Homo sapiens: one gene and its partners. The protein of the gene in region 7 purifies or fractionates together with the protein of the main gene of each other region. This does not show direct contact. Each region holds a gene or a part of one and is shown on either strand. Other genes may lie near its edges.

Evidence for each region.
Region 1: the proteins of EPS15L1 (region 7) and MCM6 purify together in Homo sapiens (affinity purification with mass spectrometry, with the first as the bait; one large-scale study listed by BioGRID). This does not show direct contact.
Region 2: the proteins of EPS15L1 (region 7) and IVNS1ABP purify together in Homo sapiens (affinity purification with mass spectrometry, with the first as the bait; one large-scale study listed by BioGRID). This does not show direct contact.
Region 3: the proteins of EPS15L1 (region 7) and NCAPG fractionate together in Homo sapiens (co-fractionation; one large-scale study listed by BioGRID). This does not show direct contact.
Region 4: the proteins of EPS15L1 (region 7) and SBNO1 purify together in Homo sapiens (affinity purification with mass spectrometry, with the first as the bait; one large-scale study listed by BioGRID). This does not show direct contact.
Region 5: the proteins of EPS15L1 (region 7) and CROCC purify together in Homo sapiens (affinity purification with mass spectrometry; one large-scale study listed by BioGRID and IntAct). This does not show direct contact.
Region 6: the proteins of EPS15L1 (region 7) and AP2A2 purify together in Homo sapiens (affinity purification with mass spectrometry; one large-scale study listed by BioGRID and IntAct). This does not show direct contact.

What each region holds. Positions count from the first base shown.
Region 1 is NC_000002.12:135,869,944-135,873,443, reverse strand, and holds part of MCM6 (DNA replication licensing factor MCM6), read left to right. Parts: intron 1-600; coding exon 601-747; intron 748-3,082; coding exon 3,083-3,193; intron 3,194-3,500. UniProt on the Homo sapiens protein: Acts as a component of the MCM2-7 complex (MCM complex) which is the replicative helicase essential for 'once per cell cycle' DNA replication initiation and elongation in eukaryotic cells.
Region 2 is NC_000001.11:185,295,888-185,298,065, reverse strand, and holds the end of IVNS1ABP (influenza virus NS1A-binding protein), read left to right. Parts: coding exon 1-31; 3' UTR 32-1,678; downstream 1,679-2,178. UniProt on the Homo sapiens protein: Involved in many cell functions, including pre-mRNA splicing, the aryl hydrocarbon receptor (AHR) pathway, F-actin organization and protein ubiquitination.
Region 3 is NC_000004.12:17,834,979-17,838,478, forward strand, and holds part of NCAPG (condensin complex subunit 3), read left to right. Parts: intron 1-2,180; coding exon 2,181-2,362; intron 2,363-2,648; coding exon 2,649-2,823; intron 2,824-3,500. UniProt on the Homo sapiens protein: Regulatory subunit of the condensin complex, a complex required for conversion of interphase chromatin into mitotic-like condense chromosomes.
Region 4 is NC_000012.12:123,319,848-123,323,347, reverse strand, and holds part of SBNO1 (protein strawberry notch homolog 1), read left to right. Parts: intron 1-1,615; coding exon 1,616-1,813; intron 1,814-2,481; coding exon 2,482-2,649; intron 2,650-2,740; coding exon 2,741-2,916; intron 2,917-3,316; coding exon 3,317-3,448; intron 3,449-3,500. UniProt on the Homo sapiens protein: Plays a crucial role in the regulation of neural stem cells (NSCs) proliferation. Enhances the phosphorylation of GSK3B through the PI3K-Akt signaling pathway, thereby upregulating the Wnt/beta-catenin signaling pathway and promoting the proliferation of NSCs.
Region 5 is NC_000001.11:16,928,431-16,931,930, forward strand, and holds part of CROCC (rootletin), read left to right. Parts: intron 1-1,415; coding exon 1,416-1,601; intron 1,602-1,693; coding exon 1,694-1,777; intron 1,778-1,855; coding exon 1,856-1,917; intron 1,918-1,998; coding exon 1,999-2,164; intron 2,165-2,860; coding exon 2,861-2,967; intron 2,968-3,500. UniProt on the Homo sapiens protein: Major structural component of the ciliary rootlet, a cytoskeletal-like structure in ciliated cells which originates from the basal body at the proximal end of a cilium and extends proximally toward the cell nucleus.
Region 6 is NC_000011.10:1,005,870-1,009,304, reverse strand, and holds part of AP2A2 (AP-2 complex subunit alpha-2), read right to left. Parts: intron 2,778-3,435; coding exon 2,688-2,777; intron 1,294-2,687; coding exon 1,170-1,293; intron 206-1,169; coding exon 89-205; intron 1-88. UniProt on the Homo sapiens protein: Component of the adaptor protein complex 2 (AP-2). Adaptor protein complexes function in protein transport via transport vesicles in different membrane traffic pathways.
Region 7 is NC_000019.10:16,461,971-16,465,470, forward strand, and holds part of EPS15L1 (epidermal growth factor receptor substrate 15-like 1), read right to left. Parts: intron 1-3,500.

The DNA of each region.
Region 1 (3,500 bases), on a different chromosome or scaffold from region 7:
ACACCTCATTTCCATGTATTCTTATTTCTGTTCTGCTTCTTAAATCCCTGACTAATTTGTTAGTTTGCAAATTCCCTACAGAAATGGAATCATTGGGTTTGAGACTGAATTTCTTGATTTAACATTTTCCAATCTTAATTATACATGACAGTAGTAAAAGAAGAGTTAGTTGTTGGGTTTTTTTGTTAGTTAGCAGTTAAACCTCACAATCATGGTGGAAGGCAAGGAGGAGCAAGTCACTGATGTCTTACGTGGATGGCATCAGGCAAAGAGAGCTTGTGCAGAGGAACTCCTCTTTTTAAAACCATCAGATCTCGTGAGACTTACTATCAGAGAACAGCAGGGGAAAGACTTGTCCCCATGCTTCAATTAACTCCCACCAGGTGCCTCCCACAACATGTGGAAATTCAAGTCGAGATTTGGGTGGGGACACAGCCAAACCATATCAGAAGGGAGGAGTAACTTGCCCCAAGTTACAGAACTGCCAAACATGGGCCTGTCTGAGCCTAGTTGTTGGACTTTAACCAATGTTCTGAATTATCATTCAGGTTCTTTGTACTGCCTGTGTCCTTAATCTAGTTGACTCGAATGTACCTGCAGGTTTCAGAGCAGCGATGGAGAAATTAAATACTTGCAATTAGCAGAGGAACTGATTCGTCCTGAGAGAAACACATTGGTTGTGAGTTTTGTGGACCTGGAACAATTTAACCAGCAACTTTCCACCACCATTCAAGAGGAGTTCTATAGGTATGGGCATATTAATCTTCTTTACTTTGAATAGGGGTTGAAATCCGGGAAGCCAGCTCTTCTTGGACTGTAAGTGTTCACTTGTGTAGCAGAAGGTCAGCTTTCACAGTTATTTCCCACTGAGAAGAGGCGCTTTGATACTGCCAGTGGTCGTTTTAGTACTGCTCTGAACTTCATGTAGGCCTTTGTAGAGCCGAACGTTTTTTTGTTGTTGTGTTTTGTTTGTTTGTTTGTTTGTTTGTTTTTTGAGACGGAGTCTTGCTCTGTCACACCTAGGCCGAAATGCAGTGGCGCGATCTTGGCTCACTGCAACCTCTGCCTCCCGGGTTCAAGCGATTCTTCTGCGTCAGCCTCCCGAATAGCTGGGATTACAGGCGCCCACCATCACGCCCGGCTAATTATTTACATTTTTTAATAGAGACGGGGTGTCACCATGTTGGTCAGGCTGGTCTCGAACTCCTGATCTCAGGTGATCCGCCCGCCTCGGCCTCCCAAAATGCTGGGATTACAGGCGTGAGCCACCGTGCCCGGCCAGAGCTGAACTTTTTTTTTCAAATACAAATGTTGAAAATCTTTGCTTTCTATATAGTTTTCCCAAGAGGAAAACTGTACTTACTTACTTTTGTGTCATTCCATTGATCCTTTTTCCCCACAGGAATAGGTGTTTGTGTGGGTCCTTTTCTTGTACTGGGGATATCTTTACAGCATTGACGTTGTTGTACTTCTTGTTCCCTTAAAGTTTAATTTTGTTTTCGCTTATAAAAGTAATAGGTATATATTGTAGAAAATGGAGAAGAGTAAGGAGAATTAAATTGCTTATACACTTGTAATCCACCACCGTCATTAGCAGATCTGCTACAACAGAGTTCCAGGAGCCTTCCAAGTCTGCAAGTGCAGAGTTTTGTAAGGATCTTCTGTCACATTTTGATGTCTTTGTGTGTATGCTGTGTATGAAATTACTCAAATTCATATAAAATTTCTTAAACTCATACTAATAGCTCCAATTGTGGTTTTTTGGTAGAAATACTATGGTTAGACATTATATTTAATAGAAGGCTTTTATTTTGTTTTGACTTGTTATATATAGCAAGAAACATCTTTGCACACAAGACTTTGTATTAGGATTAAATAAATGTGACAGTCTATAGAAATAGAATCAGGTTAAAATAAATTGTGGACAGTTGTGAAAGATAAATGAAAACCCAGGGATAAGGAGGCACAGTCTCGTTCATTTCTTAGTAGATTAGGAGATGGAGGATTTGTCTGTGTTTCTGGTCATAGCTGATGATCAAGAATAATTGGAGGGGGTAAGTAAGCAACAGGATTTATTGTGAAAGCATGCAGCAGTAGAAGTTATAGCACTGACAAATAAGGGAGAGGTAGACAATCAAGCCTGGTGGTAGAAGCAGCTGTGCCATGCCTCATGCACAAGCCAGGCAGCAGTTCTCTTTCCTGAGAGTAGCGCCTTTTTTAGAGGGTTTCAGACCCCACTTCTTAAACAAACTAAGCTGGAGTAGGTATTAGAAACATATCAAAAGGACATGCATACTTCACTCTCACCAGTCAAATGGAGCATTTTTGCCAATTTGTTCTCACATTAGTGCACAAATACTTCTCCTGTCCTCATCCATTTCTTATCAAACCAGCCAGATGTGGTGGCTCACACCTGTAATCCTAACACTTTGGGAGGCTGAGGTGGATAGATCACTTGAGCCCAGGAGTTTGAGACCAGCCTGGACAACATGGTGAAATCCCATTTCTACAAAAAAAACCCCACAAAAATTAGCTGGGCATGGTGGTGCATGCCTGTAGTGCCAGCTACTCAGCAAGCTGAGATGGGAGGATCACCTGAGCCTAGGTAGATTGAGGCTGCAGTGAGCTGTGATCGTGCCACTGCACTCCAGTCTGGGTGACAGAGTGAGACCTTGTCTCAGAATGAAACCAAAGAAATTGACTGACTTGACACATGACTTACTAAGTCATAAACAGCCCACAGAAAATTCACAGTATTGAGCATAATATTGACAAGATGATTGTTCAGCTAGTCATCTTGGACAGAGGAATGGCCAACAGTGTGGGTGCTGTATGATTATTTATGTGCTATATGATAATCAGGTATGGTATGACATTTTATATTTAGTGTTCCGGTGGGATAGGAGAGAACTGAAAGAGGGTCCTAAACCTAGAGTAGATAATAGAAGTGTCCTACACAGTTAAGTTCTAAGGTTTAGTTGTAACCAGATGAAATTCCTTAATCTCGGCTGTTGGTAGGTATGTAAAGGGAAGGAGGCCTTGGTAAACCTCTAAGGTATCAGCTGACTTTTTTGTTTTTCAGAGTTTACCCTTACCTGTGTCGGGCCTTGAAAACATTCGTCAAAGACCGTAAAGAGATCCCTCTTGCCAAGGATTTTTATGTTGCATTCCAAGACCTGCCTACCAGACACAAGTAAGAAACCCTTCTCTGGAAAAAAAGGAATTCACCAAATGGTATAAGTACCACTTAGCTGACAGTCAGAAAACTTGAGAGGTTGCCTTGATCTGCTATTAGCTGGCTATTTAACATTATACAAATCACTTTTACCTCCCTGAGCCTCAGTTTCCTTGTCTGTGAAGTCTTTTGGCTTAGGTTTTCTACCTAAATCATGCAAAAAATAGGTTTGTTGCTGTAAAATTACTTTTTCATAATTGATAATCACAATAATTATAAAACAAGTACTTATAAAATTGATGCTGTAAAATACCAGGAGGAAAAA
Region 2 (2,178 bases), on a different chromosome or scaffold from region 7:
GAGCCCCTATACAAAGATTTTCCAGTTTTAACAAATTTAAGACCCTCTCAAACTAACAGGCTTAGTGATGTAATTATGGTTAGTAGAGGTACACTTGTGAATAAAGAGGGTGGGTGGGTATAGATGTTGCTAACAGCAACACAAAGCTTTTGCATATTGCATACTATTAAACATGCTGTACATACTTTTTGGGTTTATTTGGAAAGGAATGCAAAGATGAAGGTCTGTTTTGTGTACTTTTAAGACTTTGGTTATTTTACTTTTTGGAAAAGAATAAACCAAGAATTGATTGGGCACATCATTTCAAGAAGTCCCCTCTCCTCCACATTTGTTTTGCCAATTTGCACATTAAATGACTCTTCCCTCAAATGTGTACTATGGGGTAAAAGGGGTAGGGTTTAAAGATGTAGACAGTTGGGTTTTTTAAGGGCCCTTTTTCAATAACTGGAACACTCTATAACAAAGGATACTTATTTAAATAGATGACATTGACTATTTTTGTTTTTATTAAAAGGAAGCTTACATGCCTACCAATATTTAATCTTTTATGATTGCCTTTTTATAACTTTTTATATTCTCAGCAGAGTGCTTTACCAATTGAAGTAAAATGTGGCAGGCTGGAGTTATTGAAGCAGAGTGGCAGTCTTCAGTTTGCAGAGTAGGGGTCTGTCTTTTAAACTCTGAGTGCAAACTTCAGAGTTCTTGCCTTGGCTGCAGTTTTTTTCCTTCAAGAATGCAGTACTAACATTTATTTGAGTGGAGTTACTGAACAGTAACATAGCTGTGATTTTTGGTATTTGAAACACTGGTTTTAAATATTTTGACTTGTTGAGGGTATGTTTTATATAGCAAGACATTATATAGCAGTAAAAAATGGTGTTTTATCTTCTATATAATTCCTGTTTTTATTATTAACAAAACAGTCCTAAATAGCAGCCCTCAATTGTGAAAAAATTTACTTTAAACTACATTAGGTTGTGAATGCAGGTTTTATCAGAACTATGTTTTTGTTCAGTTTATCTGTTCATATGGATAAATATTGGTTGGGATGACTTGGTGTCTAATGTGTAGTGCTACACACCTAACTTATGGGGCCAAAATAGCATGTCCTAATGCTTGCTGCTGATTTAAACACATTAAAGGTACTTTGCAGGAAATCCTTGCACCATGGGATTAATATCCAATTGCTGCTTGTACACTCATTCATTACTAAAAGTTTTGAGAAATTTTTTTTTCCAGTAATGAGCTTAAGAAATTTGTGGAAAATAACTCACCTGGCATCTTACATCTGAAATAAGGAATGATATAAGGTTTTTTTTTCTCACAGAAGATGAAGCACACAGGAACCTAATGGGCCAACTGGGATGAGGTGACTATTCTGAGATGACTATTCAGTGGCTAACTTGGGTTAGGAAGAAAATAATTAGGTATTTTCTCCAAATGTTCACTGGTACTCTGCCACTTTATTTCTCTCATCTGTTACACAAAGAACCACCAGGAAAGCAAATCAGTTTGGTTGGTAACTCTGTAATTCCTAACTATCACTGGTTTGGTTCTGGACTAAAACTACATTGACAGATTGAATTTGCCTAATATGATGACTGTTTTTAATATGGATCTGTATGTGTTCTATTCAGCACAAGGAAATAAAATTTTAGTTGAGGATTCAGCACTAAAATCCTTGAGATCACTTCTCATTTCATAAGTGACATGCTTAATGCAAATAATATATGGGAATACTTTGGGTCAAAGTTTTCCTGCATTACCTTGGATGCCAAAGAGGTAGTTTGGTGGCCAAAAAGTATCTTTTTTTAAGAAGCTGTTGTAGCTAGTCTGCATGAACATGAGAAGTTTCCATAAAGGAAAAAAAGCAGTGCTCAGTGGCCATTTGTTACTGTTAATCTGTATCTAAAAGGTACATACTTTCTTCAGAGAGGGAGAAAATGGCATAGCCTCAGCACAATTTAAAAAAAAAAAAAAGCTTTTTAACCAGTAGGAATTTTTGAATAGTTTCAAAATAATATTGATAATACCACACTTCTGGTCAACTTAATAAAACACTCTAAATTTCCTAAAAAGGTAGAAAAGCTATAAAATATCTAAACCAAATATTATTGGTTATACTCGGGTGGATCTTTTATTATGAACTTTAAATGTAGGGTTCTGATTTTTGGCTTC
Region 3 (3,500 bases), on a different chromosome or scaffold from region 7:
TATGTTGTATTTGTGATATAGAGACTCTAAGATTTATCCCCAAGACTTTTAAGAAATAGTTTAGAATAATTTTATATTGGGTGGGTAGAAGATGTAAGATAGGGTATGGGATTGGATCTCTTTTAAGTACTCTTGAACTACTATTTTTGTAGCACACATGTAAACCAACTGATTAAAAATTTTTTATACTGATTGTAGTTTTTCATTGAGTTAGAAGTGATATAACAAAACTTAATTTTATTTTTTTGAGATAGGGTCTTGCTCTGTCATCAGGCTGGAGTGCAGTGGCGTGATCATAGTCCACTGACCCCTCACCTGCTGGGTTCAAGCAATCCTCCTGAATAGCTGGAATGACAGGCATGTGCCACCATGCCCGCTGATTTTTAAATTTTTTGTAGAGACAGGGTCTCGCTCTGTTGCCCAGGCTGGTCTTGAACTCCTGGCCTCAAGTGATCCTCCTGCCTCAGCCTCCCAGAGTGCTGGGATTACAAGTGTGAGCCCTCGTGCCTGGCCCAAACTAATACTGTTAATGTGAACAATTCATTGGCATTTAGTACATTCAAAATGAAAGGCAACTACCACCTTTATCATCTAATTTAAAACATTGTCATCATCCCAAAAGGAAACTACTCATTAAGCAGTTGCTCCTCATTCCCCCTTCTGCCAGCCCTGACAGCAACCAATCCGCAGTCTGTTTCTATGGATTTAACTGTTCTGGATATTTTGTGTAAGTGGAATCATACAGTATGTGACCTCTGTTTAGCTTTTTAAATTTAGCATAACATTTTCGAGATTCATCCACATGGTATCTTGTATCAGTACTCCGTTCCTTTTTGTAGCCGAATACTCCATTTTATGTATATATGGTGATTTGTTTATGCATTCATCCATTGAAGGACAGTTGGGCTGTTTCTACCTTTTGGCTATTGTGAATAGTGCTGCTTACTATGAACATGGCATGTATATGTATTTGTTTGAGTAGCTGTTTCAATTCTTTTGGGTATCTGTATACCTAGGAATTGTGTTGCTCAGTCATTTAACTTTTTGGGAACTTGACAAACTGTTTTCCACAGTGATTGAACCATTTTAAATTTCCATCTTCAGTGTAGAAGGTTTTCCATTTCTCCACATCCTTATTGACACTTAGGTTCCATTTTTTAAAACATTATAGCTATCCTAGTATATATGAAGTGCTACTTCATTGTGGTTTTGATTTGCATTTCCTTAATGACTAGTGATGTTGAGTATCTTTTCATCTGCTTCTTGGCCATTTGTATATTTTGTTTGGATAAATGTCTGTTCAAGTCCTTTGCCCATTTTTAAGTTGGGTTGGTTGTCTTTATAGAGTTCTTTATATAGTTTGGGTAGTAGATCCTTATCAGGTATAATTTGTAACTTTTATTTTACAGGTTGTCTTTTTACTTTCTTGTTAATATACTTAGATGTATTAAACATTTTTAATTTTGGAGATACACTCATTTTTTTCTTTTGTTGCTTCTGCTTTTGGTGTCCTATCTAAGAATCCAGTGCTAAGTCTAAGTCATGAAGATTTATCCCTGTTTTCTTCTGAGAGTTTTCTGGCTTTAGCTTTTATATTTAGGCTGTTGATGCATTTTCAGTTAATATTTGTATATGGTCTAAGGTCCAGCTTCATTGTTTTGCCTGTGTACATCCAGTTGTCTTTTCCTTTGTCTTCTCTAGACTTTTGTTTACTTTTTCTAGGAATGCCTTCTGCTTCAACACCTTCTGTTCACATTCTATCCATTATTCAGACAAATTGCACTCCTACATATGGAGCTTTTGCTTATAGATAGGCACCTTCCTCTAATACCAGGGGCCAGGGTTTTCTATGTCTTAGAAACCCTAAGCATTTAAATATATGTTTTGCTCTTTTTTTCCAACAGTTATAAAAGGCCTTTTGGTTCTTCTAAAAAGTTTTAAGATAATTGAATTTTTCATGGCTAGACTAAGCATTTGTCTAGTCTCCTAGTCTTTTAGATTTGTCTAAAATTGTTATTCTAGCTTTGAAGAAACAGTCTTTTTATTTGCCTTTAAAGAATTTGTAATAACTCGAATGGTTTTTGGATGGTTCGTGTAAAAATACTGTAGGACAGGCTACATTGAGAGGCTTAAAAAGGAGATACAAATAAATTTCTTCTAATGAATGTCATCTTTGTTAGGTATCTGAACTTAGGACTGGAGCTGCAGAAGGACTAGCCAAGCTGATGTTCTCTGGGCTTTTGGTCAGCAGCAGGATTCTTTCTCGTCTTATTTTGTTATGGTACAATCCTGTGACTGAAGAGGATGTTCAACTTCGACATTGCCTAGGCGTGTTCTTCCCCGTGTTTGCTTATGCAAGCAGGTATTGAGTCATACTGATAAATCAAAAATCTGACTTGACATCAAATTCAAGTCCCCCATGAATTATATCTATAATGATATTTTGTTGTTGATACTTTTTCTGTCTTTAGTAGATAAATGATGAAATGACAAGAACGATACAGATTTTATCTATCTGAATTTTTGGCTCTTTCCTAGATGAAAATGCACTTAATGAGTGAATTTCCTACATAGTAGTTTTGAATTTCATACTTTTTCTCTCATCAAATAATGTTCTGCCAACATACTTTGAATTTGTTTCTCAATAGGACTAATCAGGAATGCTTTGAAGAAGCTTTTCTTCCAACCCTGCAAACACTGGCCAATGCCCCTGCATCTTCTCCTTTAGCTGAAATTGATATCACAAATGTTGCTGAGTTACTTGTAGATTTGACAAGACCAAGTGGATTAAATCCTCAGGCCAAGACTTCCCAAGATTATCAGGTGAGTGACTGTGGTAACTGCATGCAGATCACTGTTTTGGTAAAATAATCTCTCTCAAAGATCCCTTGAAATACTGAGGAACTGCATTTTGGTCTTTAGACTTCTGTCTCAAGCATATACCACAAAGCACGAAAGAAACATGACCTTGGGAAATGTGGAGAAATCATATGAAAACAGAAGTAATCAATGCTAACATTTTTGCTACTGAAAAGAAATTACTAAAAATCCACCACCCACACCATGCCCACCTAGTACTGACTGTTAATCTGAAGTAATAACCTATGTTATCTAGGACTCACAGAGTCTTCAAATGTTGGCTTACCTGCTATGCTTCTGGCACAAGAAAGGAGAATTCAAAGACTAGAACTCACCTCAAGCTTTTTTGGCTTTTAATTCAAAGAAGATAAATCAATTGCACACTGACTCACAGACTGAACTTAAGCTGGGTTGTTTTAATCCTTTAATGGCATTTGGTCAAACTTGTTACCATTTTTGAAATTTAATGTATTAGTGATTTCAGATGCTAACAGATTAAGTTGAAAGTATTACTCTATTTTATTTGATATTTAGTGATAAGCTACTCTGTTCAATTCATATGTTGTATATTATTGGAAAGATAAGATTACAAAGGATATTAGGCAAAATTAGGTAAGGGTCAGTAATAGAGCTATTAAGCA
Region 4 (3,500 bases), on a different chromosome or scaffold from region 7:
AGTTGACGTTGAAAATACTGTTGAAATTAAAACATAAGCATTTTAAAGTGGCTATATTTTGGGAATGAACTGCCTTCCATGAATTCACAAATGGTTCCAAATTTTCACTGTCACTTGTACAATTTTGAATGCACAAGTTATCCCCGTTTTAAATTAGGAATTGAGCAATTCACTGGTGGTTGGCAGTGTGTTAAGCACTTGGCTATATACATTCTACCATATAACCTGGCAGAGGTCCATACGAAATTAGGTCTTATTTTTCCAATTTTATAGACAGAGATCATTGAAGCACAGAAAGATTTAAAGATTAAAGAGTTTTCCTAGTTTCACAGAGATAGTTAATGATGCATGGGAACTAAAACCTGTGTCTTTGTATTGTCAGACCTGTTCTTTAATATATAGACAGCTGGGTGTTTCAGTAGTTTTCTTTAAAAGAGCCTTTTCTTTTTTTTTCTTTTTTTTTTTTGAGACAGGGTCTCCGTCTCCGTCACCCAGGCTGGAGTGCAGTGGTACCATCTTGGCTCACTGCAACCTCTGCCTCCTGGGTTCAAGGAGCTGGGATTACAGGCATGCACCACCACGCCCTGCTAATTTTTGTATTTTTAGTAGAGATGGGGTTTCACCATGTTGGCCAGGCTGGTCTCAAACTCCTGAGCTTAAGCAATGCACCCACCTAGGCCTCCCAAAGTGCTGGGATTACAGGTGTGAGCCATCTCGCCCAGCCCTGTTTTGGTTTTAGAAGTTGACTTCTCGCCGGGCACAGTGGCTCACGCCTGTAATCCCAGCTTTTTGGGAGTTGAAACAGGCGGATCACCTGAGGTCAGGAGTTCGAGACCAGCCTGGCCAACATGGCGAAACCCCTTCTCTACTAAAAATTAAAAACTTAGCCAGGACTGGCGGCAGGGGCGCCTTATAATCCCAGCTATAAGGGAGGCTGAGGCATTAGAATCACTTGAACTCGGGAGGCAGAGGTTGCAGTGAGCCAAGATTATGCCACTGCACTTTAGCCTGGGAGACAGAGTAGACACTGTCTGGGGAAAAAAAAAAAATATCTGGTCATGGTTGCATGTGCCTGTAGTCCCAGGTACTTGGGAGGCTGAGGTGGGAGGATCACATGAGCCAGGGAAGTCGAGGCTGCAGTGAGCTATGATTGTGCCACTGCACTCCAGCCTGGGCAACAGTGAGGCCCTGTCTCCAAAAATAAAAAGGTTTTATAAATTGATTTTCTATTGATTTTCTAAGTATTCCATGTCTATAAACCTGTAATTATTAGGCCTCTTCTCAAATCTGATACACAGTCAAATTGTGACTATGCCAGAGGTTCTGCTTTTACTCTGTTGTCCTGAATATGTTTTGAAACTTGTGCACTTGAAGGCAGTCTTGACTTAGTACTTTTGTATCCAATTTCTTCTTCAGAATAAATGTTTATAACCTTATTTTTTATGGGAGTCCAAAAGGTTAGTGCTGGTTTGTGAATTCTGTTTGTTTTTTGACTTAACCTAAATACTTTTCCTCTGCACTTTTCATTTGAATTAATTCATGAACTAAATGTGATGTACTGGATCTTAAGAAACATTGAATTTGGGCTGACTCTCTTGTTTGTGGCGGAGGGTAGGTGAAGAAATAACTCGAGAAGCCAAAAAAGCACGAAAAGTAGGTGGCCTTACTGGTAGCAGTTCTGACGACAGTGGAAGTGAATCTGATGCCTCTGATAATGAAGAAAGTGACTATGAGAGCTCTAAAAACATGAGTTCTGGAGATGATGACGATTTCAACCCATTTTTAGATGAGTCTAATGAGGATGATGAAAATGGTAAGTTCAGTATATTAAATATACACGAAAGCATATAATATTTCAGTATATTTGAAAATGGGATATGAAACCTTTTCTTCTGTACAGTACAAATGATCACACAGATTATAATCTTTGCTTGGTGGAAAGCTCCAGGCTTATCTACCTTCTGGAAGTTTGAGCCTCATATATGTGAGAAGATAACCTCAATTTTGTGCAGTTATTTTTAACTTGAAAACATGGATTTGTACCCCATGGTGTATGGATGAACCAATGTAGGTGGTGATAAGTTATCAGTTAACAATATAAAAAATTTCATCCAGGCGCGGTGGCTCATGCCTGTAATCCCAGCAATTTGGGAGGCTAAGGTGGGTGGATCACCTGAGGCTGGGAGTTCGAGATCAGCCTGACCAACGTGGAAAAACCCCATCTCTACTAAAAATACAAAATTAGCCAGGTGTGGTGGCACATACCTGTAATCCCAGCTACTCAGGAGGCTGAGGCAGGAGAATCGCTTGAACCCAGGAGGTGGAGATTGCAGTAAGCTGAGATTGCGCCATTGCACTCCAGCCTGGGCTACAACAGCGAAACATTGTCTCAAAAAAATAAAATTTCAAAGGTTGTTTCCTTTGAAGATTCTGTACTTGTTTTAACAAATGATTTGACATGTATCTTTCCTTAACACTCAGATCCCTGGTTAATTAGAAAAGACCACAAGAAAAACAAAGAGAAAAAAAAGAAGAAAAGTATAGATCCAGATTCTATTCAAAGTGCCTTATTAGCATCAGGTCTTGGATCAAAACGACCTAGTTTTTCATCTACACCAGTTATCTCACCTGCTCCTAACAGTACACCAGGTATCCATACAGAAACTTCCTTTTTGAAATACTGTTTTAAACAAAAATATTTAAACTTTGTACTAACTTTTAGCAAATGTTCTTTATCTAGCTAACAGTAACACCAACAGTAACAGTAGCCTTATAACAAGTCAGGATGCTGTGGAAAGGGCTCAGCAGATGAAGAAAGACCTGCTTGATAAGCTAGAAAAATTAGCTGAAGACCTCCCCCCTAATACCCTGGATGAACTTATCGATGAACTTGGTGGCCCTGAGAACGTTGCTGAGGTAAATAGGCCTGTATCTCTTGGTGACATTTTTGCCATTTGAACCCCTGTAAAATGAGTTGTATTTTGACTGTCTTCACATAATAATCTAAATTTCTTAGATCATAGAATTCTTGTTCTACTTTAGTTGCCATCCTACATCCAATGAACTGCTGCCTGCAGTATCTGAGTGTCTGTCCCAAGCCACTGGTCCTAGTTACTGCACTTATCACGCATCTTTTGTGATCGTGGCCATGTGTCAAGGTTTTTCCAGGGACTCTGTTGCAGTGTTCTGTATCCTTCAGTGTGTGGTGCAGCACAGCCTGTGCTCTTATCTCCCAAGTGTCTTCAAGGAAAGAGGCACTGAGTCCATCCACCGCAGTCAGATACCTTCATTGTAATGACATTGTTTGGCTTCTCAGATGACTGGCCGCAAGGGACGGGTTGTGAGCAATGATGATGGAAGCATATCTTATGAGTCAAGATCTGAACTTGATGTGCCTGTGGAAATACTAAACATCACAGAAAAACAACGATTTATGGATGGAGATAAGGTATGTTTTACTGAGATGCTTCTCAGTGAAAAGAACAATGCCTGTATATTTA
Region 5 (3,500 bases), on a different chromosome or scaffold from region 7:
GCTTCCTGGGGGTGGAGGAAGGGCAGCAGCAACAGAGGCTTTCCTGCAGTGAGGATGGAGGGGACCTTTTTTTTTTTAAGATGGAGTCTTGGGCCGGATGCTGTGGCTCACACCTGTAATCCCAGCACTTTGGGAGGCCGAGGCGGGTGGATTACGAGGTCAGGAGTTCGAGACCAGCCTGGCCAACATAGTGAAACCCCATCTCTACTAAAAATACAAAAAATTAGCCAGGTGTGGTGGCGTGCACCTGTAGTCCCAGCTACTTGGGAGACTGAGGCAGGAGAATCATTTGAACCCGGGAGGTGTAGGTTGCAGTGATCCGAGATCGAGCCATTGCACTCCAGCCCAGGAGACAGTGCAAGACTCTGTCTCAAAAAAATAAATAAATAAAATAAAATAAAAAATAAATAAATAAAGATGGAGTCTTGCTCTGTCGCCCAGGCTGGAGTGCAGTGGCACGATCTCGGCTCACTGCAACCTCCGCCTCCCAGGTTCAAGTGATTCTCCTGCGTCAGCCTCTTGAGTAACTGGGATTACAGGTGCATGACACCACGCCCAGCTAATTTTTGTATTTTTAGTAGAGACGGGGTTTCATCACGTTAGCCAGGCTGGTCTTGAACCCCTGACTTCAAGTGATCTACCCGCCTTGACCTCCAAAAGTGCTGGGATCACAGGCATGAGCCACTGCACCCAGCCAGAAGGGGGCATTAATATGCAGGCGCCGTATAGGGCAACACCTGTGTGCACCTCTTACAAATCTTAATGCTGTGTATATGAGGGGGTTCCTTCGTGTCCTCCGGGAATGTTTGAGGTTGCCTGTATGTGTTATGTGTGTGCATATCTTTAAGGTCAGATATGCATAGACAGATTGACACCTCTGTTTTGAATGTATTCCCATGAGCTCATCCCATTAATTCACTATCGCAACAAATATTTACTGAGCGTGAGCCATGCCATTCCACAGCCACCATTCTAGTACTAAGATACAATGAGGAACAAAAAATCCAGGCTTTCCTGAGCTCACATTGGGGTCGGGGCATGGTGGGAAGACACAGGCATCAATGTAATAAACAGAAACCACGACAGGGCTAAGTGTTCTGGAGGAGAGGCACATGGTGTACTGAGGCCCCTGAGGTTGACCCAGGTGCACCTTTGAGCTTTGCCTGCGTGGTTTGGGTTTGTGGGCTCACCTGCATGTGTCCATGCATGCCCCGTCTGCGTGCCCGTGCATGGCTGCATCACCCCATACACACGTGCACTGCCCCTGGGCTTGCCCACATGTGCTGCTCCCCAGGGCGCCAGGCTATCAGCCTACAAGGCATTGTGGGTCTGGGCCCAGCCTGCCACGCCCTACAGAAGCCTGAGCCTGCCTTCCCAGGAGGCCCAGGACTCTCACCCAGGGCCCTTCCCTGCAGCTGGAGCAGGCTCTGCGGCTGGAGCCTGGGGAGCTGGAGACGCAGGAGCCCAGGGGGCTGGTACGGCAGAGCGTGGAGTTGCGGAGGCAGCTGCAGGAGGAGCAGGCCTCCTACCGGCGCAAGCTGCAGGCCTACCAGGAGGGCCAGCAGCGGCAGGCCCAGCTTGTGCAGCGGCTGCAGGGCAAGGTCAGGACCACCCACTCCTGCTCCTGTCCTCCCACCTGTTCACTTTGCCCCGCCCCAACCCCTGGGGCTCACCATCAGCTCCCCATCCCCAGATTCTCCAGTACAAGAAGAGGTGCTCGGAGCTGGAGCAGCAGCTGCTGGAGAGATCCGGAGAGCTGGAGCAGCAGCGGCTGAGGGTGGGTGCCAGTGTGGGGCAGGGGCAGGCCCTGCCCTCCACCTGCCCAACCTGATGCTTTAACCTCTCTCCCACCCAGGACACAGAGCACAGCCAAGACCTGGAAAGCGCCCTCATCCGGCTGGAGGAGGAGCAGCAGAGGTGAGGGCGCAGCAGGGAGGGCCAGGGCTGGCAGGATGGCCCCCTGCGCGAGCGCCTACTGATCCCCTGTGCCCCATTCAGGAGTGCCAGCCTGGCCCAGGTGAATGCCATGCTCCGAGAACAGCTGGACCAGGCAGGCTCGGCCAACCAGGCTCTGAGTGAGGACATACGAAAGGTGACCAATGACTGGACACGCTGCCGCAAGGAGCTGGAGCACCGGGAGGCGGCGTGGAGGCGCGAGGAGGAGGTGGGCATGGGGGTGCAGGGAGGCCAGCCTGACCCAAGAGGAAGGGGCACTGCAGAGGAGGGAGGACTCAGAAGCCTGGAGAGGGAGAGGGAGCACTGTCCAAGGGAGCCTGTTAGCAGAAGTAAATAGCCGTCATCACAATAGCTGGTCTTTATCAGTGTGTAGCATGTACCACGTGCACGGTGTGCGTTGACCTTTATTCCTCATGATAACTGCATGTGGTAGGTGCTATCATTCTCCTCATTTTAAAGAGAGGTTAAGGCCGGTCGCAGTGGCTCACGCCTGTAATCCCAGCACTTTGGGAGGCTGAGAGATCGTGCCACTGCACTCCATCCTGGGCAACAAAGCAAGACTCTGTCTCCAAATAAGTAAATAAATAAAGAGAGTTTAAGTAACCTGCCCACAGTCATGCAACTGGCAGCTGGGATGCAAAGCTAGGTCCCTTGCATTTTTGCCCTTCGTTGCTGCCTCTTGCAGCCAAAAGAGGACTTGAAACCCAGGTCCCTGTGCAGGAGGGAGCCATGAGGCTTGGGAGGCTGAGCATGGCCGCTGCAACACAGCTCTGTGCACAGACCCACAGGAAGACCCAATCCCTGAACGACGGTGCCTCCCAGGATGGTCGGAGATGAGGGAAGCAGTGGGAGGGAGTAAACCCGCTCTCACACCAACCCTTCCCTCGGCATGTCTTCCCTCCAGTCCTTCAACGCCTACTTCAGCAACGAGCACAGTCGCCTGCTCCTCCTCTGGAGGCAGGTGGTGGGGTTCCGGCGGCTGGTCAGCGAGGTGAAGATGTTCACTGAGAGGTGAGGCCTGGCCGGGGACGGGGCAGCAGCTGAGAGCCAGCCCTGCTCTTTATGTCCAACTGAACTCAGTTGAATTTCAGTTCAACTCAACGCACTTACTGTGCACAAGGGCCGGTGAGGACACAGAGGCAACTTGTAATAACCATTACCACAGTCGTGGCAGTCAGCATTTATTAGATGTTTACTCTGGGCTAGGCTCATTGTATATTTCATTTCAACTAATATTCATAGCTTCCCTGTGAGGTAGGAACTGTGTTCATTCACATATTACAGATGAGGACATTGTGGCGCAGAGAGGTTGAGTGATCTTCCTGAGGTCACACAGTAGTACATAAGTGGCTGAGTCAGAGTTTGAAGTTCCTGATTTTTTTTTTTTCTCAGACGGAGTCTTGCTCTGTCACCAGGCTGGAGTGAGGTGGCACGATCTTGGATCACTGCAACCTTCACCTCCTGGGTTCAAGCAATTCTCCTGCCTCAGCCTCCTGAGTTGCTGGGATAACAGGCACATGCCGCCACACCCAGCTAATTTTTTT
Region 6 (3,435 bases), on a different chromosome or scaffold from region 7:
TGTTCTCAGCCAGGCCAGAGACCAAAACCCACCTTTTCAAATGAGCCCCGTCCCCACCCCTGACCCCTACAGGAAACAGGTTTCTCACTTGCTCAACTGCTTCCAACGTTGAAAGAAATCCTGAGAAGCCATTTCTGTCGGCTGGAAGAATTTGTTGAGAGTGATGGGCAGCTGCACAGACACGTTCTGGAAGGTGCCCCCATACCTGCCAGCAGCAGCAGCAGCAGAAAGAGACAGTCAGCTACTCCTCTGAGAGCCCCAGGGACCGGGAAAGAGCCTGGAGTGAGAAGCGTCCCGATCTACTGCCACCCACCAGAGCGGGTCGGGGGGCCGAGCCTTCAGTCCCCACGGATCGTGTGTGGCTCAGTGTCCAGTGTCACCCACAGACAGGAGGACAGGCCAGGGCCGCATACTCAGGCAGGACGTCCCTGTGCCTCACTTCTCCCCATTCATCTGTTTCCCAGAACTCCAAGTCTGTGCAAATAGTGTGATGTTTTTTCTTTAAAAAGGCAAAGGCATTTGCACAAAGAATGAAACAAAAACTTGCATGTCTATGTCCCCGAATTCTACAGTATACAATCTTAAGTTCTCTGTCTTTTTAATGTTAGAAAGTGTGCTTTTCTCAACATTCCTAACCTTGCAGACACCCAGCAGGGGACGGGCTGACTGTATCCACGCTATTTGTAGTCACTGAAAAGTGAGAGTAATGAACAGTCGCAACAGGAAAATCCTATGCTTTTAAAAAATAAGCAAAGTGGTACGATCTGAGCTCAACTGAGCAAAAAACGCGCCCCCCAGGCCAGGGGGCCGAAGGAAACCAGCTGCCTGCACCCCACAGCTGTCGTCTGGTACCAAGCCGGGCAGGTGGCGCGGGGGCCCTGGCTGTCTGCCACCCCATGAGGTGGGCCCCATGGTGCCCAGAAAGATCCTAGCAAGGCCCCATGTGGGAGCTGCCACCTGCCGTCCCGGAGCCCAGGGCTCCGCCTCCCCTTGTTTCCTGCGCTCTGCAGAGCCGGGGGCAGCAATAGCTCAGGCCGCATCCATGCACCGTGAGCACCCGCACGCCCCGGGTCCCCTCAGGAAGGACACGGAGGCACAGTCATGGAGCCCAGGCACACAGCTCAGGCGCCCACACACCCCTTGGCCCGGGGCGCACAGGCGGCTCTTACCTGAACTGAATGTTGAGGACTGGCGCCTCCGTGAAGTCGGACACGCACTCTATGTTGACCACCTGCTGCACCTGCGCGCCCCCCTCCACGGTCGGGTCCACGGGCTTGGTCTGCAGGTTCAGGTGTGCGTGCGTTAAGGAATCCAGCTGAGCAAGTCCCAGTGGCAGAAGCGGAAACGGGCCGGGCTAGAGCCCCAGCAGGACCCGTGGAGGCGAGCACACTCACCACACTCTAGGACCACCAGCTACGGGTCGAGGGCAGCCACACCACCCGGCCCTGCCCTTCCACCCAGACAATCCTCAAAACACTGTCTGCTTCTCACGCTTCCAGAATGGCTCCTCCATTTTAAAAAGTCACTTAGATTATATACTACTTGTCTGTTTTCACTCTGAGCCTCGGCTCTGGGTCTTACACACACAATTTTTGTCACCGTTAGCAGAAACTGGTGCTTAGTAGGGCAGGAAAACTTTAAGAATCCCAGGAATAGCAGGCTCCTGAAACAGCGAGACACAGAAAAGAGCCTGCCCTGCTGGGACCAGGGTTGTTTTCATGCTGGAAAACAAGGGTTTGCCTACAGCCTCTCCTGAAGAAACAGTGACAGCAGCAAAGCTGGGTCCAGGAGGCAGCGGGGTGCAGGCCTCTCCTTCCCTCTGGGTCGTGTGCCGCCGGCCACTCAGCTGCTGGGCTCGCTGCCGCCTCGAGCCAAGTGGACCCCGAGGGAGAGACCCCTAAAGAAGGGCGCAGTAGGAGTCAGAGCTTCCACTCCAGATTCCAAACAAAGTCTTTAATACAGGTGCTCCTGCATGTGTATTTTTAATGACTGTTTTGAAACAGCTTGAACAGTCTGCATTAAAACATGTTCATGTTAAAATGAACAGACCAGCCAGTGGCAAGGAGGATGTTGCTTCACTCAGGTCGCTGACCATAAATCCCCAGGTGTCACCATCTCTGGTCAAGCTGGGGTCTTCACGCTAACTCTATTTGGCGGGCCTATCCTTAGAGGTAGAGACGTTAGCGTCTCCCTGTTTTAGCTGGGGAAGTTCTAGGAACGCTTCTGGCATTACGAAGGGAAAATCTTCAGTCTAAAAGCTCTGCCAGAAGCACACACAAGCTCGGCTGGGGTGCGCACCGCGCTCCAGTCCCCACTGGCGCCTCCCACACTCTGCAAGCAGCAGCTCTGTGAGGCTTCGGAGAGGAGGGGTTTAAAGATCACGTCACAGGAGAGTAAGAGCAGGTGAAAAGGAAAGGGACTCACACTGGCCAGATGGAAGGGGAGGAGGCATGTACACGGTATTTTTAGGTGCATGATCAAAAGCTGGCTCTCCAATATGGAAGACTGCCTGTTTTCCTTCTCCTGCCCAGCACCATAGGCAGATTACGACTGCCTGATTTTCATATAGCATCTGGAATTATCTCGCTATTTTAACAAAATAAGAAAACCAAAAAACTTCCTCAAAAGCCTCCTCTAAGCCCCACATTATGCTGTCTGCGGGCATGGGGCAATGAAGCCAAGGATATTAGGCTGAAGGTCGTCTGAACAGATTAGTGTTGGGGTAAAGTTTAGGAACTGCGTGGAGGTCTTATTACCATAAAAGATAAACATCCGACCTAGAAGGAACAAAAACAATTTTTTCACACACACCATTTCACACTTACCCTGAATATTTACCCTGAAAAACAAGAGCCCCCCACAATCTTCAGCTGAATTTAAGTTCACTGTTGTGATGTATGACTGTTGTTAAAATTAAGAACAAATTTTTTCCAGTTTTAGAACGAGCACACCAGTGCTGGTAACACGGGCCGGGTATCTCCTCCAGTCAGAGGTAACTTCCGCCCTCCAGCACCCTCCTCCCTCGGCCCCTCCTGCGCACCCACACGGGATGGGTGAGATCACACGCATATGCACGGGGAAGGACCCACAGAACGCCCCGTCTGCAGGCTGGGCTACAGCTGGAGGGGCCTGCCAAGCATCTTTTCCAGGGACGCCACAATCACACAGGCCTCTGCCGGCCCCGCCCCATGACTGCAACATGCAAACACACGCACCGGCCCCGGCTGCCTCCTGTCAGGGGACCCGGCTGGGCACGCGTCCAGCACAGCATCGGTGTTGCACACTAGCCCTCACTGCAGCGGCTCAGCCACGGCACAGGTGCACATTTAGGATGTGTCGCTGTTTTTATTTATATCACAGTAAAAAATCTTTGTGAACATCTGTATACCCCTTGAATTCAGAAAGGAAATCTCAAATATTTTGAAAACAGTAAAC
Region 7 (3,500 bases):
TGCCAGGAGCCCAGATTTCAGGGGCTGGGAACCCAGCAGGGAGCAGGAAAGACAGAGCTCCTCGACCCTCCCGGAGCCCATGGTGTGGCAATCATAGGACAAAATGGTGGCTTTGGAGCCCATGGTCTGATTCAGACGCCTGTTCTCCATGGGGGTCTGACCAGTTGTTTTACCTCTCTCCCTCTCAGTTTCCTCATCTAGAAACAAGCACAGGGACAATGGCACCATTGTTGGTCCCACAACATTCCCTCACTCCTGCATCAGACCTGTGCCCCAAATCTCTCCCCAGGGCCCAGAGCTGCCTGCCTGGGCCCACTCACTGGTGAGGGCAGTCAGGGTACCACCAGGGCTGGGGTCCCGTTGCCACCTGTTCTGGGAGACCAGGTTACCAGAATCAGGGAAGTGGGGGGGAGGGCATGGTGGCTCACACCTGTAATCCCAGCACTTTGGGGGGCCAAGGTGGGTGGATCACTAGAGGCCAGGAGTTCGAGACCAGCCTGGCCAACATGGTGAAACCCTGTCTCTACTAAAAATACAAAAATACAAAAAAATTAGCCAGGCTTGGTGGTGTGCACCTGTAATCCCAGCTACTTGGGAGGCTGAGGCAGAATTGCTTGAGCCCAGATGGCGGAAGCTGCAGTGAGCCAAGATCATGCCATTACACTCCAGCCTGGGTGACAAAGCGGGACTCCACCTCAAGAAAAAATAAAGTAAAACAAAGAATCAGGGAAGTGGGACTCTGAGAAGGCAGAGAGGGGGCCAGGAAGCTGTGAAGATGGTGGTGGGAGACAGGGCCTGTGCAAAGGGTGGGGGCAGGACACTGGTCCACGCAGTGTACAGCCAGTCAGAGAGGCTGCACCCAGCTGCTTCCTCCAGGCCTGTTGGAACAGAGGAGGGAAAAGACAAAAGGAGGCACAGGCGCCCTCTTCCTCCTGTCCTTTATTCCCAGCCCAGTGGAGGTGATTCATCCCACCGCTGTGGGTGCCACCTGACTTCCACGAGTGTGTCACACTATGTCCTAATTTTCTGTGTGCCTGGGTGCCCAGCTGCAGTTGAGCTGACCTGGAGGGTGGGGCTCGGTTTTATTTATCTTGGTCCCAAGACAGCACACAGTAGCTCAGCAGACAGAATCTCATGGTGCCCCAGCCCCAGAGCTGGTCTTCTTTTTGACTGTACCTAAATGTGGGGTCTCACGTGGCTTGGAGGGTTTCCTGCAAAGTGATGGGTTTTGACTCAACTGACACAGCCACAGCCCACCAGGCTCTGCCCACCAGGCACTCCCACTGCTGCTGTCCTGGCTCCCTGAAGGTGGCCTCAACCTGACGGTTGCAGACACTATGCCTGCTTCTTCCCCCTGCTTCCTCTCCCACCTAGACCCTCACCTGTCCAAACAGCTACCCCACATATTCCTTTCACCCCCAGCCCTTTCTACTCTTCCTGAAACAACCTCAGGCCAGGTTCCTCTTGATCACTTCATGCCCATATCACAGAGACTGTCTCGGAGCTAGAACCCAGCTCCAAGCACTCCCTGTGTAAGCAGCCAGATCATCTAAAGGTGTCACTCCTCAAGAACCTGCCATAGCTCCCTACTGCCTCTCATAATGTGGCCCATGCTACTCTTCCCTCAACAGATGATTGTTGAGCACCTGAGTGCCAGCTGCAGCCTGGCAAACAAGGATGAATAAAACAGGCACAGTCTCTGCCCTTGTGGACCTAGTCTAGGTGGTTGGGGAAGACAGACCATCAATCAACCCCGCAAAGAGAAAATTATAAACGGCTAAATGGAAAAGGTGTCCATCTCCACCAGTGGTAACAGAGATGCTGGGCCAGTTTGTCAGGAAAGGCTTCCCTGAGGAAGTGATGCCCCAGCTGATATGAAAAGGTGTAGGGATTCACCAGAGGATGAAGGGTTTGGAAAGAGCATTCCAGAGAGAGGGAATAGCAGATGCAAACGCCTTGAGGCAAGATGAAGGATCGCCTGCGCAGATGACAGAAAGAGGGGCCAGGGGGCCACAGAGCAGAGGGAATGAGGACTGCAGGCCTGGGAAACACGGGGAGCAGGTGTGCTGTCAGCTGCCGGTAGCAGCGCCTGATCCAGCCTGGCTGGTGTGCCCAAGAGGAGGAGAAGTGACTTTATGTCAGCCTGACCTGCAGGCAGTCAGTAAACAGATTCTGTTATCAGGTCTACATTCCACACCACAGGCAGTGCAGATGGAAATCCGAGACAAATGTCTGTGGTCATCTGTGACCTTTACTTTCACCCCAAAGCTTGTAGTATCAAGAGCTGGGACTCCTATGAAGGGAAAAGCCCAAAGAAGCTTTAAGAGCTAATGGTCTGCACTCCATGCAGGAGCAAACTTCAGGGCCACCACTCTGACCAGCGGTAAAACCCAGTCCAGCGCGAAGGACAGTGGGCAGGTCTCAGCTCCTCAGCCCCCACCAGCCACTGGCCACTCTCTCGGCAAGCAGACATCCTGTCAGTTCGGCCGATTTGTAGCCCAGACACAAACTCTCACGTCTTATTTACCAAAAGACCTTCCTCCTCTCATCCCTGAGCTGCCTAAATTAAAGGAAGGACATGAACCCCAAAGTCCCAGCCGCATGTTTTGGCCCTTTGACCTAGACCTGCAGCCTCTCAGCTCTGGCTCAGTCCTCTTTGCCTCCGTGTGAAAGGCTATTCCCCATGGCCTAGACCAGGGGTGTCCAATCTTTTGGCTTCCCTGGGCCACACTAGAATTGTCTTGGGCCACACATAAAATACACTAACACTAACACTAACACTAACACTAACACTAACACTAATGATAGCTGATGAGCTTTAAAAAATTCACGGGTGGGCATGGTGGCTCACGCCTGTAATCCCAGCACTTTGGGAGGCCAAGGCGGGCAGATCACAAGGTCAGATCGAGACCATCCTGCCTAACCAGTGAAACCCCGTCTCTACTAAAAATACAAAAAATTAGCCAGGTGTGGTGGCGGGTGCCTGTAGTCCCAGCTACGCAGGAGGCTGAGGCAGTAGAATGGCATGAACCCAGGAGGCGGAGCTTGCAGTGAGCCGAAATTGCACCACTGCACTCCAGCCTGGGCAACAGAGCGAGACTTAGTCTCAAAAAAAAAAAAAAAATTCACAAGAAAACCTCATAATGTTTTAGGAAAGTTTACAAATTTGTGTTGGGCTGCATTCAAAGCCATCCTGGGCCACATGCAGCCATGGGTTGGACAAGCTTGGCCTACACCAAACACGCCCTCTCCTCCATACAACCATGTCCAACACCCAAATGGAAGCCAGTCATCTGCCCCTCCTGCAGCTTGGACCACCCGTGACCTGAGCCTCTGCTGTGGGCCGGGCCTGGACAACTCAATTCTGCATGGGCCAGGAGCACTGATTACCACTCTGGCAGGGAAACCTTTGGATTCTCCTAAAGACAACTGGCTGGGAGTGGTGGCTCACACCTGTAATCTCAGCGCTTTGGAGGCAGAGGCAGGAGGATCACTTGAGG